Linked DNA regions of Homo sapiens: region 2 is linked to region 1. Evidence: fine-mapped expression QTL. Tissue or cell type: whole blood. Region 1 holds a variant in brackets; the other region holds the start of a gene. All regions are shown on one strand. Distances are between the middles of the regions.

Evidence for each region. PIP is the estimated chance that this variant, and not a neighbour inherited with it, causes the effect.
Region 2: it holds the start of EPRS1, and the variant in region 1 is fine-mapped to the expression of EPRS1 in whole blood (INTERVAL, PIP above 0.99). The same link has a PIP of 0.9 or more in blood mononuclear cells.

Annotation. Positions count from the first base shown.
Region 1 is chr1:220,020,803-220,028,802 of GRCh38, forward strand. It overlaps EPRS1 (glutamyl-prolyl-tRNA synthetase 1), which reads right to left. Exons shown (of 32, transcript NM_004446.3): 7 at 4,330-4,456; 8 at 3,462-3,654; 9 at 1,545-1,716. Among named protein-coding and RNA genes, the nearest start is that of EPRS1, 22 kb to the right of the region's middle. RefSeq lists an enhancer at 5,929-6,430. The variant C/T (reference allele first, on the strand shown) is at 3,983.
Region 2 is chr1:220,042,330-220,051,560 of GRCh38, forward strand. It overlaps EPRS1 (glutamyl-prolyl-tRNA synthetase 1), which reads right to left and starts at 4,176. Exons shown (of 32, transcript NM_004446.3): 1 at 4,014-4,176. The coding sequence starts at 4,059. RefSeq lists enhancers at 3,329-3,886, 3,928-4,257, 4,318-4,387.

The DNA.
Region 1 (8,000 bases):
ACATGCAGTATCAATTTGAATTTATATATATATATATATATATATATATATATATATATATATATATATTAGTGCATTATGCTTTCTTTCTTTTTTTTTGGAGACAGTCTCGCTCTTTTACCCAGGCTAGAGTGCACCGGTGCGATCTCAGCTCAGTGCAACCTCCGCCTCCTGGGTTCAAGTGATTCTCAGCCTCCCAGGTATAGATGGGATTACAGGCATGCGCCACCATGCCCCGCTAATTTTTGTATTTGTTTTAAAGTAGAGATGGGGTTTCACTATGTTGGCCAGGCTGGTCTCAAACTCCTGGCCTCAAGTGATCCACCCACCAAGGCCTCCCAAAGTGCTGGTATTACAGGCATGAGCCACTACACCCAACCAATGCTTTCCTTTTTGTTTGTCTAGAGACAGGGTTTCACTCTGTTGCTCAGGCTGGAGTGAAGTGGCATGATCACAACTCACTGTAACCTTGAACTCCTGGACTGAAGCAATCTTCTTGCCTCAGTCTTCCAAGCAGCTAGAACTACTGAAGCGTGCCACCATACCTGGCTAGTTTTTTTTTTTAATTTATTTTTTGGTAGAGACAGGTTCTTGCTATGTTTCCCACGCTGGTTTCAAACTCCTAGCCTCAAGAGAGCTTCCTGCCTCAGACTCCCAAAGTGTTGGCATTACAGGCATGAGCCACTGTGCCCAGCCATTATACATTCTAACTTTTAAGATACAACTTGATTAAGATGCTACTGCATTATGCTTTGCAATTATTTGACACTGAAAATGTGTATCCAAAGTCACTTTTCCAAATGTATTGAAAGGATTTGCTTAGTAAAACAAGGAGTAATCCTGAGAAAAATGATATGTATGCACATATAATCACATGTGTATTTGTCTATATATGGACAGACATGTCAGCACCCATGAGTTTAAAGTAAGTCACATCAGCTAACCAAGTAATCATTTACATTTACCATTCTCTTCAGAAATTTTAATTCAGCATTTATGTGTAGTACGCTTCTTCAAAGTATTAAAAAATATTTTTTATGATTTATTTTATAAAGTAGGGTTTTTTTTTTTGGAAAAGGTCCATTTAAAACAAAGATTCGTTAACCTACAAATCCACATTGAAAACTAATCTAAACACATGTTACTCTCCTGTATTGTTCATATTTCTGGAAGTTTTCAATACTATTACTTTTAGGAATCAATTTGTGCAAAGTAGACTCAAAGTTTATTACAGGAAGCAAAGTATCTTCACCTAAAGATGTACATCACAGTATACCTAATCAATACAAAAAAAGCAACTCTAGGCAGACTCAGGACTTTCATAGATGGAAGTGATCTTAGAAATAATGTGGTAGAACCTTAATTGACAGGTGAGTAAACGGCCCGTGAAAGGCTACATGCCTTTACAGAAGGCCACCAGCCAGTGAACCCATGGATGAACAAAAGGCCAGGTTTCTTGACTATTTTGCTTGTACTCCATGTTTAAAGAAGATCAAAACAAAAGCACAGATGGCTACCTAGCATATTGAAGGAGATATACTTACTTGTATTTATTTCCAGTTCTTGGATGTGGTTGAATTTTGCAGCGATAAAGGGTTGGATCTCTCATGCATCCATTGTTACTACTCATGTCAATTTTTGCTCGCAAACAACAGGACTGACCAAACTGGCTCCCTTTTTTCATTTCTTCCCACATTTGTAGATTCTTCTCAATAGCTATAAAATGATAATTACATTACGGTTCACTAATCTGGTTAAATTCAAATTATTCTCATAGTGCTATAATTTGATATAAATTTTCATGTTCTTGTTTTATAACCACCCTGTGTTAGTTTAAAAACACTGTAATATTTCCAGTATCCAGTACCAAGAGCAAATGCGTCATTTTTTAATTAAAGAAGTTTCACAATACATTTAGCAAATACAAATACGTTTTAGAAAAGGTAACATCAATACATTCCACTCATGTGGTATCAATTAAGCATAAGAAAAAGTACAAGGCCTGAAGGCTCCGCTCACCTAGTGTTTCCCTTCCCATCATGGCACAACGGGCCAGCCCCTTCTCTTCTCATCTCCCTGAAATTTAACATTCTGCCTTTAAAGCAGAAGCATTCTTATTTTGCCACCTCATGCCTAAGGGACAGAATGGTTTGGTCCGGCCCTAAGGTCCCACAGGCATTGGCACTACAGACCGTGCCTATCTAAAGAACACAGCTCAGGTTGAGAGTCTGAGCTCATGGGCTCCCTGAAAGCCCCTTCATCATCCCAATGAGAAGCAGGATACTCTTGGATCCAAGAAAATAAGAGGTGATAGAAAACAGTGACACAGGAAAGAAAAGAGTTTAATACCAGAAAAAAGGACTCTACATTCCAAGTGGCTATGGCTCCCTCTATATCACAATATCTAGCAAAAACCTGCCCTGTATGCATACAAACTGTTAAACAATAATTTTCTGTGGAAGCTACTAGAAATGTAAGACACTTGCCCTCAAATAATCAAGATAGGTCTAAAAGTCCATTGGTTAGCCACCTCTGAAAATGTAGAAAACCTTTTCAAAATAAAAAAGACTCATTATAACTATTTTAATTTACTAATACTTCCCAAATGTGGCACTCCAGGTTTAATTATAGTGAAGTTCTGACAACATAATTACAGAATGAAAATCACCCAATTTAGAAGTTCAGGAGAGAAGCCATGAATAAGAAAGATATGCTCTTCAGTCAAGTGATATTTCAGAGATACAGGTTAGTACTGAGCTTGTACTATATATTATATTCATATTTACCCACATGCCAAAAGGAAGACTTGGGTGACAACATTATCATCAAACATTGTATTATAGAAAGGCTAAGTATTTAAAGTAAGAAAACTGTAAAATGTTGCAGAAGGAATCCTTCAAATTGAATGAATACAATGCAAAAGACTACACATAATAAGTGAGATACTAAGGGCATATTCACATGCAGTTGTGATGTTAATAAAATAACAAGAACATAAAGATAGAGGAAGAAAAAAGATTTCTAAGACAAATGAGTCATATACCCAAATGTATTTAAACTAGCAGCTTTTGCCAGATACGGTGGCTCATGCCTGTAATCCCGGCACTTTGGGAGGCCAAGGCAGGCAGATCACAAGGTCAGGAATTCGAGACCAGCTTGGCCAATATGGTGAAACCCCGTCTCTACTAAAAATACAAAAATTAGCAAGGTGTGGTGGTGCACGCCTGTCATCCCAGCTACTTGGGAGGCTGAGGCAGAAGAATCACTTGAACCTGGGAGGCGGAGGTTGCAGTGAGCCGAGATCGCGCCATTGTACTCCAGCCCAGGCAACAGAGCGAGACTCCTTCTCAAAACAAACAAACAAACAAAAAAACTAGCAGCTTTCACAAAAAAGAAATCACGTTCTACTAAAGAAGCACAATATAAGAATATCAATTAAAATATAAAACAATGTGGCTTACGGTTTTTTCTATGTTTAGAGTCTATCCTCTGCTCACGTTCTGCTTTCATCTGTTCAGCAGGAGTATCATCCACATAAGCCTTCCCTTCTTGAATTAGCTTCTCTGCATACTTCATTATAGTTTCAAAATGATCCGAAGTATAAGTAAATTGATCTGGTTTGATATGCAACATTGCAACATCTTCCAAGATAACCTGTAGTAAGAAACCAAAATAACCATCAGTATATCTTTTGCATTTTTTCGTGCATTTTCAACCCTTGATACTGCATTTAAGCAAATGTAACATAGACCATCAGTCTTATTTAGCCTGAAAATGGTTGTGGAAGTTACATGATATTAGATCAAAAAAGAAAAAACAGATAGATACTCATTATATTAGCCTCCAAATTTCCAGCTGAGAAAGCTGATCTCACGATGGAGTTTTCCATTTACTTTGGAAAAGCTGGTCATTACTGGGAGAACTGACAATCATTTGCCCTCTCTTTGAATACACTGCCATACTTCTGAATAAAGATAAGAGG[C/T]TAGGAAACCTTCACATTTTCCAATACCTACTTAGTGTTTATTTCATTCATAAACTTAAGATTATATGACCAAAAAACCTGCCTCCAGTGACCATTTAATAAATTGGTATTATAGGAAAACATATCATTCAGGTAAACTCTATAACTGGGGAAAGGAAAAATAACTCTTAAGTTTTTTGGTATGGGAGCTCGACATTTCTTGGCTTAGGTCTCAGATATGGAATATATAGATAGGGAAAAAAGCAGCTATGAGAACAAAATTTATTTTCATACCATGAAGGTATTAGGTAATCCTGTAACTTTAATTCACTTTTCTGGCAAAGGGTCATCACTACACTTTTAATTACCTTCTCAAAATCTTCCTTTTCTTTTTCAGGATTTGTGTCATCAAATCTCATGATCAGTTTCCCTTTAAAGTTAACCTGGTAGTGCTGGTTCAGAAGAGCAGCTTTTGCATGCCCAATGTGTAAGTAACTAAAACAAAAACATTTCACAAAGAAACTCATTAACATGTTTTAACTAAATACTTAAACTTAACCTTTTTGAGGAGATGAGAACTAAACAAAAGTCCTTCTAATTGGTACCCAAGTCATATTTTATTTTCTAACAAAAAGTACTGTGATAGAAAATCTGACCCTGACAGGAAAAAAAAAAAAGACTATACCATATATAAAACAATTATAAGAAACAACTTCAAATGTAAAATCTCACAGAGGGGACAAGGTATTTACAAACATTGCAACCTTAAGGAGATTCTCCTTTTTCTTTTTATCAAAAAGAATGATCATTTAATTAAAGTAAAGCTGCTTCAAAATTGTTTCCAACGCTACCTTCCACTGTTTGTCTTTAATAAGACCTACTACTACTGAGAACTGGGTGCCCACCTATGCCACTGGAGAGAAGCTCTTCTGAGACTGTCACTGTGATGACTAAATGAAAAGAGCACATGACAATTAGTAAAAGCCGCTTTACTTCTCTAGGCTTTGGTTTTCTCAGATGCCAAAATAAAAGTTTTTTTTTTTTTTTTTGAGACGGAATCTCGCTCTGTCGCCCAGGCTGGAGTGCAGTGGCACGTTCTCAGCTCACTGCAACCTCCACCTCCTGGGTTCAAGCGATTCTCCTGCCTCAGCCCCCCAAATAGCTGGGACTACAGGCACGCGCCACCATGCCCAGCTAATTTTTGTATTTTTAGTAGAAACGAGGTTTCACCATGTTGGCCAGGATGGTCTCGATCTCTTGACCTCGTGATCCGCCTGCCTTGGCCTCCCAAAGTGCTGGGATTACAGGCGTGAGCCACCGCACCCAGCCAAAAGATTATTTTTTAACTTTAATTTTTTAACTTCTATTTTAGGTTCAGGGGTACATGTGAAGTTTTGTTATATAGGTAAACTCATGTCACGGAGATTAAAAATAAAAGAATTTTAACTAAATAATCCCAAAGGTCTCATCAGCACCAACACTCAATGAATCAGAATCTACAAAAACACTGTTCTGCTGTTCCTGTGAGCAGCTGACAATTGTAAGGAAGAATACAGATCAGAGACACTGTTGATAATATCACACATCAACACCCTCCTTCTATCAAGTACATGAGTAAAAGAAAATATGTTACACCACTATGTTGAAATACAGTTGATTGGGCTGACAAGGCATGAAGCAAGGAAGTTTAATCAGCTTTCACCAACTTGTATTAGTTTCAAATTATAATGATGGCAGCAGTGGTACAGTTTTTTTTGTTGTTGTTGTTTTGTTTGTTTTTTTTTTGAGACGGACTCTCGCTCTGTCGCCCAGGCTGGAGTGCAGTGGCGTGATCTCAGCTCACTGCAAGTTCTGCCTCTCAGGTTCACACCATTCTCCTACCTCAGCCTCCCAAGTAGCTGATACTACAGGTGCCTGCCACCATGCCCGGCTAATTTTTTGTATTTTTAGTAGAGACGGGGTTTCACTGTGTTAGCCAGGATGGTCTCGATCTCCTGACCTTGTGACCCGCCTGCCTCGGCCAGCAGTTGTACAGTTTTAAGATAGTTACCTGGTTTCCCACACAGGTTTGATCTCAGTTGATATCCATATGGGAGGGGGAAAAGTTTATGAAATTATATTATTTTATAAAATAAAATAATATAAAAATTCATAAAAGTTTATGAATTTACATTATTTTCAAATCAATCAAGTTTTTAAAAGTCATTAGCATCCCAGATCAATGATTCAACTTTAAGAAGGGCTTGGGCCGGGCACAGTGGCTCATGCCTGTAATCCCAGCACTTTGGGAGGCGGAGGCGGGCAGATCACGAGGTCAGGAGTTCAACACCAGCCTGGCCAACATGGTGAAACCCCGTCTCTACTAAAAATACAAAAATTGGCCAGGCACGGTGGCTCACGTCTGTAATCCCATCACTTTGGGAGGTCGAGGCAGGTGGATCACGAGGTCAGGAGATCAAGACCATCCTGGCTAACACAGTGAAACCCCGTCTCTACTAAAAAAAATACAAAAAAATTAGCCGAGAGTGGTGGCAGGCACCTGTAGTCCCAGCTACCTGGGAGGCTGAGGCAGGAGAATGGCGTGAACCCGGGAGGTGGAGCTTGCAGTGAGCCAAGATCGTGCCACTGCACTCCAGCCCGGGCGACAGAGCAAGACTCCATCTCAAAAAAAAAAAAAAATTATCTGGGCGTGGTGGTGGGCGCCTGTAATCCCAACTACTCGGGAGGATGAGGCAGGAGAATTGCTTGAACCTGGGAGATGGAGGTTGCAGTGAGCCAAGATCGCGCCACTGCACGCCAGCCTGGACAACAGTGCGAGGCTATGTCAAAAAAAAAAAAAAAAAAAAGGAGGGTTTATATACAAAGACTAATGCAAACAACTACAATGCAACATATTTAGGGCTATTCAAAACTTTATACATATAATAAAGGGCTGTACGCCGGGTGCAGTGGCTCATGCCTGTAATCCCGACACTATGGGAGGCCAAGGCAGGCGGATCACCTGAGGTCGCGAGTTCAAGACCAGGCTGACCAACATGGCGGAACTCTGTCTCTACTAAAAATACAAAAAATTAATTAATTAATTAATTAAAAATTTTTTAAAAAAAGGGCTGTATGTGATATCCCAGATGAAATCTTAGATCAGAAAAGAGATACTAGGGAAAAACTAACAAAATCCCAAAAAAGGATGGAGTTTAATAACATATTAATATTAGTTCATTAGTTGTGACAAATGTACCATAATAATGTAAAATGTTAATGTTAGGAAAAACTGGGTGCAGGGTACATGGAAACTTTCTGTACTATTTTTGCAACTTTGTGTAAATCTAAAACTATTCTAAAATTAAAAATTTATTAAAAATAAAACTAAATGAAGGGCCATAAGTTCCCAGGAAGAAAAATATTGTGGTGTACTTTTAACTTGAGGGCGTTGCACCCAATAACATGTTATAACCATTGTCAAGAAAAGATTAACAATTAGTACCTATTATTTTACAGTTAATGTGCTTGGCTTTAAAATACAGAAATTAATTTAAGAAAGGTGATGAGATCAAAACATTATTTCAAAAATGTTATTTCTAAATCTGCAGGTCTAACAATTCCAAACCTCAAGAAAGCTAAGAGGACTATAAGTCACAAGACAACTAAAATCATCAGTTAAAGAGTGACTCTATATCAGAATCGCTAAAACACACACACACGCGCACACACACACACACACAAAAGAATCATGCTGCATGAGTTAGAACTGATGCTGAATTGGGCTTCTGCCATATGTTAACAGATACATGTAGTACAATTTTTAATTATATGGATTCTAGAGCCAGATGGTAGAGGTTTGAGCTTGGCAAGTTACTACAACATATGAATCTGTTTCCGAAACCATTTGTAAAACAGAGATAACAACAGTGCCTCCTCAGAAGGCTGTTGGGATTAATAAGTTACTATAAGTAAAGCATGTGGTAGCACCTGTACATAATAGGTGCTATGTATATGTTAGCTAAGAATAAGAATAAAAGACTAAGCCAAGCCTTCTGGC
Region 2 (9,231 bases), 22 kb after region 1:
AAAATTAGCCAGGCGTGGTGGCATGTGCCTGTAGTCCCAGCTACTTGGGAGGCTGAGGCAGGAGAATTGCTCGAACCTGGGAGGTGGAGGTTTGCAGTGAGCCAAGATCGTACCACTGCAGTCCAGCCTGAGCAACAAGAATGAAACCCCATCTCCCAAAAAAAAAAAAAGAAAAAAGAAAGAAAGGACAGAGTCCAGGTTGGAGGGGCTTCCACTGGCAAATCAGGGTAATGACATCGAAATAAATGAGATCAATTTTAGCACACCCATACAATGAAATTTTATCCAGCAAATAAAAAAATGAACTACTGGCCGGGCGTGGTGGCTCATGCCTGTAATCCCAGCACTTTGGGAGGCTGAGGGGGGCGGATCATGAGGTCAAGAGATCGAGACCATCCTGGACAACATGGTGAAACTCCGTCTCTACTAAAAATACAAAAAATTAGCTGGGCGTGGTGGCATGCGCCTATAGTCCCAGCTACTCGGGAGGCTGAGGCAGGAGGATCACATGAAACTGGGAGGCAGAGGTTTCAGTGAGCCAAGATCGCACCACTGCACTCCAGCCTGGTGACAGGGTGAGACTCCATCTCAAAAAACAAACAAACAAAAAACAACATCAACAACAACAAAAGTAAACTACTGTCATAGACAAAAAGATATATGAATTTCAGAAGTATTATCCTAGGCACATATGAGAATATAAGAATATATATAATATGATTCAATGTATATGAAATTATAGAAAAAGCAAAAAAGTGACAAAAAGAAGATGAGTCGCTATTAGGTGCTAGGAGTAGGGAAAGGAATGACTGCAAAGGGGCGTGAGAGGACTTTCTGAAGTAATGGAAATACTCTACATGATGACTGTGGTGTAGATTACACACTTGTCACATTTGTCACATTGTACACATTTGTCAATCACTTAAAATTGGTGAACAATTGTATACAAGTTATAATTCAATAAAACTAATTTTTAAAAACAAAATAATTTTAAATAGAAAATGAAAATAATACAAATTGTAACTTCTTGAGTATTTTTGCTATGATTTTTTTAAATGGGAAAAAGAGAAAGCTCTCCTCACAGAAAAATGCCAACTAATACATACAGAAGGAATGGTAGAATGGGAAAGTCACTATCTCGCAAACATCATAAAATCATAAAAATCAAGTTAGGCAGGAAGTATCAATGGATACTGAAACTAGTGGGTGAAGATCTGATGCAAAGTGGAACATTTACATGATTCCAATGCATCTGCCCATTAAAATTAAGGTTAGAATAATCAGTAATGGGAAAATTAAATTCATGCACCAACTGATGGGCTGCAATGAAGAACAAGGAATAACTACGCTATTCCTGCCAAAAACAAAGAGCCTGAATCTAGACACCAGGAAATATCAGACAACTTAAACAGAGGATATTCTTCAAGTTAAGTGGCCTGTTATCTTCAGAAAGGTCAAAGCTATGAAAGCCAAGGGAAGACTAGGAAACCATTCCAGACTGAAAGAAACTGGAGAGAGGTGACAATCAGATGCAAACAAAGCATAATACGGGATTTTGATCTCAACACTATGGAGGGTCTGGTTGTAACAAATAATGATAGAACAAGGATGGGGTCTGTGCATTAGATGGAAGCATTGTATCCAAGTGTATTTCCTGATTTGGGTGCTTGTGTGAGATCACCTGGAGTTTCCAAGTTTGTTGGGGATGTACACTGGAGTTATGCTGAGATACTGAAGCCTCATATCTACAGTATGCTCTTGGGTGGTATGGGGGAAAAAGGTCTTTATTTTAAGTTTGAAATTAACATTAAATATATAACATGATGAATGCATACAAAATAGGAAAATTCTAGCAATGCAACTATTATTTTAAAATGTTTCATCTAATTATATTACTTAAAGATAAAATGTAATTGAATTAAACTGGGAATAATTAAATCAAAAATTAAAAAGGGAGAGGAGCAATTAGAAAAATGATATATTTGATAACTGGCATACAGTTCAAAATGACAAGAGTTTCACAGAATACTGGCAGAATTCTGAGTTCTGTAATACACTACAGAAACAGGCCACCTTCAGGGTGATTTTCTAAGTAACAAAAAATGTATCAGGAGGCTGGGCATGGTGGCTCACACCTGTGGTCCTGGCACTTTGGGAGGCCAAGGCGGGCGGACTGCTTGAGGTCAGGAGTTTGAGACCAGCCTGGCCAACATGGCAAAATGCTGTGTCTACTAAAAAATACAAAAATTAGGCGGGCATGGTGGTGCGCACCTCTAAGCGCAACTACTCGTGTGGCTGAGAACAAGAATTGCTTGATCCTGGGAGGCAGAGGTTGCAATGAGCTCGGTCTCCAAAAAAAAAAAAAAAAAAAAAAAAAAAAAAAACAGTATCAGGAGCTTTAACTATAGTCTCACTTAACTCTGGCAACCAATCCTATCTGGAAGACATTATTCTCCCTTTCTTAAAACAAGGAAACTATGGGAGAAGCTAAATAAGGAACTTGTCAAGGTTTCACAACTAGTAAGTGGCAGCCAGGATTGGACTCAGGTCTGCAGAAACCAAATGTCTTTGCTCTCAATCATGAAGGCACTCTAATGCCTTTCCAGCTCAGGAATCAAACCCATTCCTTTTAGAGTTCATTGATTTGTTGTGCGGTTAGTCCATTACTGCAACCAATATGCCAAAACATTACCATCTTTTAAATGTTTAAAATGGCTATTAAGTTGTGTTTTTGTTCAACAACCTTAAAACATCACCAAAGTTGAGAATATAATGAATAATTTCATCAGCCCCACGTGGTCAACTGTATATAAAGGTATGGGCTTCTTCAACATTAGAAAGTACTGTGTGTGTATTATCATACATATGCATTAACAAATATTAGGTCAGGCTGGGTACTGTGGCTCACGCCTGTAATCCTAGTACTTTGGGAGGCCAAGTCAGGATGGCTTGAGCCCAGGAGTTTGAGACCTGCCTGGGCAACACAGTGAAACGCCATCTTTCCAAAAAAGACACAAACACAAAATTAGCCAGGCATGGTGGCACGCGCCTGTAGTCCCAGCTACTAAGGAGGCTGAGGTGGGAGGATCATCTGAGCCCGGAAGTTCGATGCTGCAGTGAGCCTTGAAAGCGCCACTGCACTCCAGCCTGGACGATAGAGCAAGACCCTGACTCTCAAAAGAAAAAAAAAAATCGGCAAACTACTTAAATTCTTCTGTGTAATTTCCCAAAGTAATGAAAAAGCAGAAATTCTAAGCAATCTACCAACAATAATCTTGGTCATGTCGAAAAAATAATTCCAAACAGAACTTAAGATGTGTCAGTAAGGTGACAGATCCAATGTTTACTCTGAAATTTACTACACATCCACAGGGTGCAGTAAAAGCAACCGCATCAGTCTACAGTGTACCTGGGTGTTTTCCCCAATTACCCTACCACATTTAATTAAAAATAAATGCAGCCTCAGTTGAAATCCTAAATGCTAATATGCTCGTCTGGGTTATTTCTTCTGAACTCGATAAAACGTAAGGAAAATTTGACTCAAGTGAACTGAGGATTTCTCCTGAGAGGAGGGACAGGACAGGAAAGGAGGTAAGAAAAGGAGTTGGGGGAAAAATGCTAAAAGAGAAGCGACGACTATTGGATTTTAAGTTTTAAAATCTTATTTCCACGAGCAACTCTCGCTCTCCGGGGGAAAAAGGGAGAGGTGAGTTGACTGGGAGTTCATCCCTCTGAGAAAAAGATCCGAAGCGGAGTCTCGTGTTGTCTAGCCCGGGCTCACACTGCGCCTCCCTCCATGCCCGGGAAAACCATCTTCAGGAGCAGATGCACCTGCCGGGGACACGGGGCGAGGGGTGCGGAGCCTCCTCCACGTACAATTCTGGGGCGAGGGGCAGGTCCAACATCCCAGATGGTGACCACCACTGCGCAAAGCCGGGGCGCAGCGACCTTCCACGCCCTGCACCCTCCCTGGCTGATGCAACCCACACAGGTCATTGGTCTCGGCCCCTTACCTAGCGGAGGGTCTCCTGAATTCACGGTCAGAGAGAGCGTCGCCATCTCCACCAGTCCGCTGGTCCACCTGTCAGTACGCCTGGCTCGTGCCAGAACTACGGAGGACCCCGCGAAAGGAAGAAGATGCAACGTGTGCGCGTACCCGACGCCGCCGCAGCCTTCGCTCCGCCCCTGCGCCGCAGCTACTGCCGACACCGCGCACGCCGCGGTGCGACATCGTCGCGCGCCGTCTTCGTCCCCGCCCGCAGGTTCCAGAGCCTGCTACCCCTCCTCTTGGCCGCCAGGGTTAGAACGGCCTGCGTGGCCTTTCGTGCTGCGGTGGGAAAGACGCTGAAGTGGACGGGACTTTACGACACTTCGTCAAGTCAGCAGGTCGTAAAACAGCAGGTTGTAAAACCATCTTTAAGATGGGATAGGCGTTTATGTGAAGCACGAAACAAAAGCATGCACTGTCTTTATGTAAAAAGAAAAGTCCTGGAAGCATACACACGATAGCCATGATTACGTTGGGAATGGGAGAAGTTTTTCTCGTTGTTTATTTTATACATTCCCCCCCGTTTTTTTTTTTCCAAAACAAGAACGTATTTTCAAGAGTTATTTGCGTGTTGAAAATAATGGTTAAAGGAAATATAAAAGACTCTTTAAAAATCACTGCAGGCCGGGCGTGGTGGCTCACGCCTGTAATCTCAGCACTTTAGAAGGTGTAGGCGGGCGGATCACCTGAGGTCAGGAGTTCGAGACCAGTCTGGCCAGCATGGTGAAACCCCATCTCTACTAAAAATACAAAAATTAGCCTGGCATGGTGGTGGGCCCCTGTAATCCCAGCTACTTGGGAGGCTGAGGCAGGAGAATCGCTTGAACCTGGGAGGTGGAGGTTGCAGTGAGCCGAGATCGTGCTACTGCATCCAGCCTGGGCGACAGAGTGAGACTCCTTCTCGAAAAGAAAAAAAAAAAAAATCACAGCAGAGGCCGGGCGCGGTGGCTCAGGCCTGTAATCCCAGCACTTTGGGAGGCCGGAGGCGAGCGGATCTCGAGGTCAGGAGTTGGAGACCAGCTTCACCAACATGGTGAAACTGTAGAGACGGGGGTCTCTACTAAAAGTACAAAAATTAGCCGGGAATGGTAGCGCGCACCTTTAATCCTAGCTACTTGGGGAGCTGAGGCAGGAGAATCGCTTGAACCCGGGAGGAGGAGGTTGCGGTGAGCCGAGATCGCGGCACTGCACTCCAGCCTGGGCGACAGACTGAGACCCCGTTTCAAAACAAACAAAAAATCACTGCAGATAGGCGCAGTGGCGCGCTCCTGTAGTCTCAGCTATTAAGAAGGCTGAGGCAGGATCGCCTGAGCCCAGGAAGATGAGGCTGTAGTGGCCTCGCCGTGGACTTGCCTGTGAGTAGCCACTACCCTCCAGCCTGGCCGACACAGGGAGAGACCTGATCTAAAAAACAAAACAAAAAAACCCTCCGATGCCGCCCCCAATCATGGAGTCCACAGGTGTTTTTTTCAGCGTCTCATCTGATTCTCCCTTTCAAATCCTTTGTGACGGACGTGCATGCATGAGCTCCAGAGATACTCCAAGGTGTATACACACATTCGTGTGTGTGAGCTGCACCCATATTTCAAGGGCTGGTGTTAAAGTACGGGGACCCGGGATGGATTCCAAGAACCATCTCAACCACATCCTCGCCTACACTTTTTCTTAACCTCCCCAAGACATCCTTGTTTTCATTAGGGAGGGCCCCTTAGATTACATCTCCCATGAGACTTGAGGCCAGGCGCGGTGGCTCATGCCTGTAATCCCAGCACTTTGGGAAGCTGAGGCGGGCGGATCACCTAAGGTCGAGAGTTTGAGACCAGCCAAGCCAACATGGAGAAACCCCATCTCTAGTAAAAATACAAAAAAATAGCTGGGTGTGGTGGTGCATGCCTGTAATCCCAGCTACTCGGGAGGCTGACGCCAGAGAATCGCTTGAACCTGGGAGGCAGAGGTTTCGGTGAGCTGACATCACGCCATTGCACTCCAGCCTGGGTAACAGGAGCAAAACTTCATCTCAATAAAAAAAAAAAAAAAAAAAAAGAAGCCTACTTTCAGGATAGTGGGACTTATAGCAGAAAGTCTTAGGTCTTAGAGTTACCATCTTGTTGGATGCTTTTACTAGTTCCAATCATTTTTTAGTTATGTTGGATTTTCTAGGTAAATATCATTTTCTTCCTATCCAAAATTTACATGACCTATATCTTATCTCTTTCATTGGCTAGAACTTCCAGAATGATGTTAAATGGGAGCAATAATAGTGTCGAATAAGAGAGTATTTGCTTTGTTCCTGACTTTAGTGGGAATGCCGCTAATGTTGCATTATCAAGAATAGTGTCTGTGGCCGGGCACGGTGGCTCGCACCCGTAATCCCAGCACTTGGGAGGCCGAGGTGGGTGGATCACCTAAGTAGAGGACTTCGAGACCAGCCTGATCAACATGGTGAAACCCTGTCTCTACTAAAAATACAAAATTAGCTGGGCGTGGTGGTGCATGCCTGTAATCCCAGCTACTCAGGAGGCTGAGGCAGGAGAATCGCATGAACCTGGGAGCTGGAGGTTGCAGTGAGCAGAGATCATGCCACTGTACTCCAGCCCGGGGCAACAAGAGCAAAAAGTCCGTCTCAAAAAAAAAAATGTTAAAGAATAGTGTCTGTAAGCCAGGTGTAATGGCTCATACCTGTAATCCCAACACTTTGGGAGGCTGAGGTAGGCAGAACACCTGAGGTCCGGAGTTCGAGACTAGCCTGGTGAATATGGTGAAACCGCGTCATTTTACTAAAAATACAAAATTAGCCTGGAGTAGTGGTGCATGCCTGTAGTCCCAGCTACTTGGCAGTCTGAGGCAGGAGAATCACTGGAACCCAGGAGGCAGAGGTTGCAGTGAGCCTAGATGGCACCATTGCACTCCAGCCTGGGCAATAAGAGCAAAACTTTGTCTCAAAAAAAAAAAAAAAAGAATAGTGTCTGCTAGGTTGGCTGCAATGGCTCTTGCTGGTAATGTCAGCACTTTGGCAGGCCCAGATGGGAGGATCACCTGAGACCAGGAGTTTGAAGGTACAGTGAGCTATGATCGCGCCACCGCACTATAGCCTGGATGACAGAACAAGACCCTTTCCCTGAAAATAAAAATAAAAAAAGAATAGTGTTTGCCGCTGGTTTCTTATATATTCTTAGGTTAACAGGGTTTTTTTTTTTCTTTTTGAGACAGAGTTTCGCTCTCGTTGCCCAGGCTAGAGTGCAACGGCATGATATTGGCTCACTGTAGCCTCCGACACCTGGGTTCAAGTGATTCTCCTGCCTCAGCCTCCAAAGTAGCTGGGATTACAGGCACCTGCCACCACGCCCAGCTAATTTTTGTATTTTTAGCAGAGATGGGGTTTCATCATGTTGGCTAGGCTTATCTCGAACTCCTGACCTGAGGTGGTCTGCCCGCCTCGGCCTCCAAAGTGCTGGGATTACAGGCCTGAGCCACCGTGCCCAGCCCTGGATTCTTTTTAAAATCAAGAATGGGTATTGGATTTTCACTCCTTATTATTGTGTACATAAACAGGAGATACAGAGATGAAAGGTGAAGTCCCTGTCCTCAAGAAGCCTTTTTTTTTTTTTTGAGATAGAGTCTCATTTTGTTGCCCAGGCTAGAGTGCACTGGCATGATCTGGGCTCACTGCAACCTCCGCCTCCCTGGTTCAAGCAATTCTCTTGCCTTTGCCTCCTGAGTAGCTGGGATTACAGGTGTGTGCCACCATGCCCAGCTAATTTTTGTATTTTTAGTAGAGACGGGATTTCACCATGTTGCCCAGGCTGGTCTCAAACTCCCAACCTCAGGTGTTCTACCTGCCTCAGCCTCCCAAAGTGCTGGGATTCTGTGCTGGGATTACAGGTGTGAACCACCACGCCCAAACTTTTTTTTTTTTTTTTTTAGACAGAGCAGGCTGTAGTCCAGTGGCACGATTATAGCTCACTGCAGTCTCAATCTCCTGGGCTCAAGCGATCTTCCCACCTCAGCCCCCCAAGTAGCTAGAACTACAGGCATGCTCACCATGCCTAGCTAATTTTTTATTTTCTGTAGGTATGGGGTCTGTGTTGCCCAGGTTGGTCTTGAACTCCTGGACTCAAGCAATACTCCTCCCTCAACTGCTCAAAGTAGTGGGATTACAGGCATGAGCCACCGTGCCTGACCAAGAAGGCTACAGACTTTGGGAGGCCGAGGTGGGTGGATCACCTGAGGTTGGGAGTTGGAGACCAGCCTGGCCAACATGGTGAAATCCTGTCTCTACTAAAAATAGAAAAATTAGCCTGGCGGGCATGGTGGCACACACCTGTAATTCCAGCTACTGGGGAGGCTGAGGCAGGAGAATCGCTTGAACTCAGGAGGTGGAGGTTGCAGTGAGCTGAGATTGCGCCACTGCACTCCAGCCTGGGCAACAGAGCAAGACTGTGTCTAAAAAACAAAACAAAACAAAACAAAAACACAAGGTAAATAAAAATTGCTACACAGTGAGATATATGTAGCAATAGAAATATGTTCATATTAAAAACATTTTGGGGCCGGGGTGCAGTAACTCACACCTGTAATCCCAGCACTTTGGAAGGCTGAGGCGGGTGGGTCACTTGAGGTCAGGAGTTTGAGACCAGCCTGGCTAATATGGTGAAACCCCATCTCTACAAAAAATACAAAAATTAGCTGGGCTTGGTGGCACATGCCTGTAATCCCAGCTACTCTGGAGGCTGAGGCAGGAGAATTGCTTGAGCCCAGGAGGCAGAGGTTGCAGTGAGCCGATATCGCATCACTACACTCCAGCCTGGGTGACAGAGTGAGATGTGAGACTCTGTCTAAAAAAAAAAAAAAATTGAAATGAGAGTAAAAATAATAAACTTTGCAGAAAGTACAAAGATAGCTCAGAAGATGGAAGATGATTATCCATGTTGAGTGAGGAAGGAAAGACAGAATGGTAAAGGAAAGCTTTGGCTAAAAGATGGCATATTTGGCTGGGCACAGTAATATACCTGTAATCCTGTATGCCTGTAATTACACCTGTAATCCTAGCACTGTGGGAAACCGAGGTGGGAGGATCACTTGAGGCCAGAAGTTTGAGATCAGCCTAGGTAACATAGCAAGGCCCTGTCTCCACAAAGAAAAAAAAAAAATTAGTTGGGTGTGGTGGTTTATGCCTGTAGTCC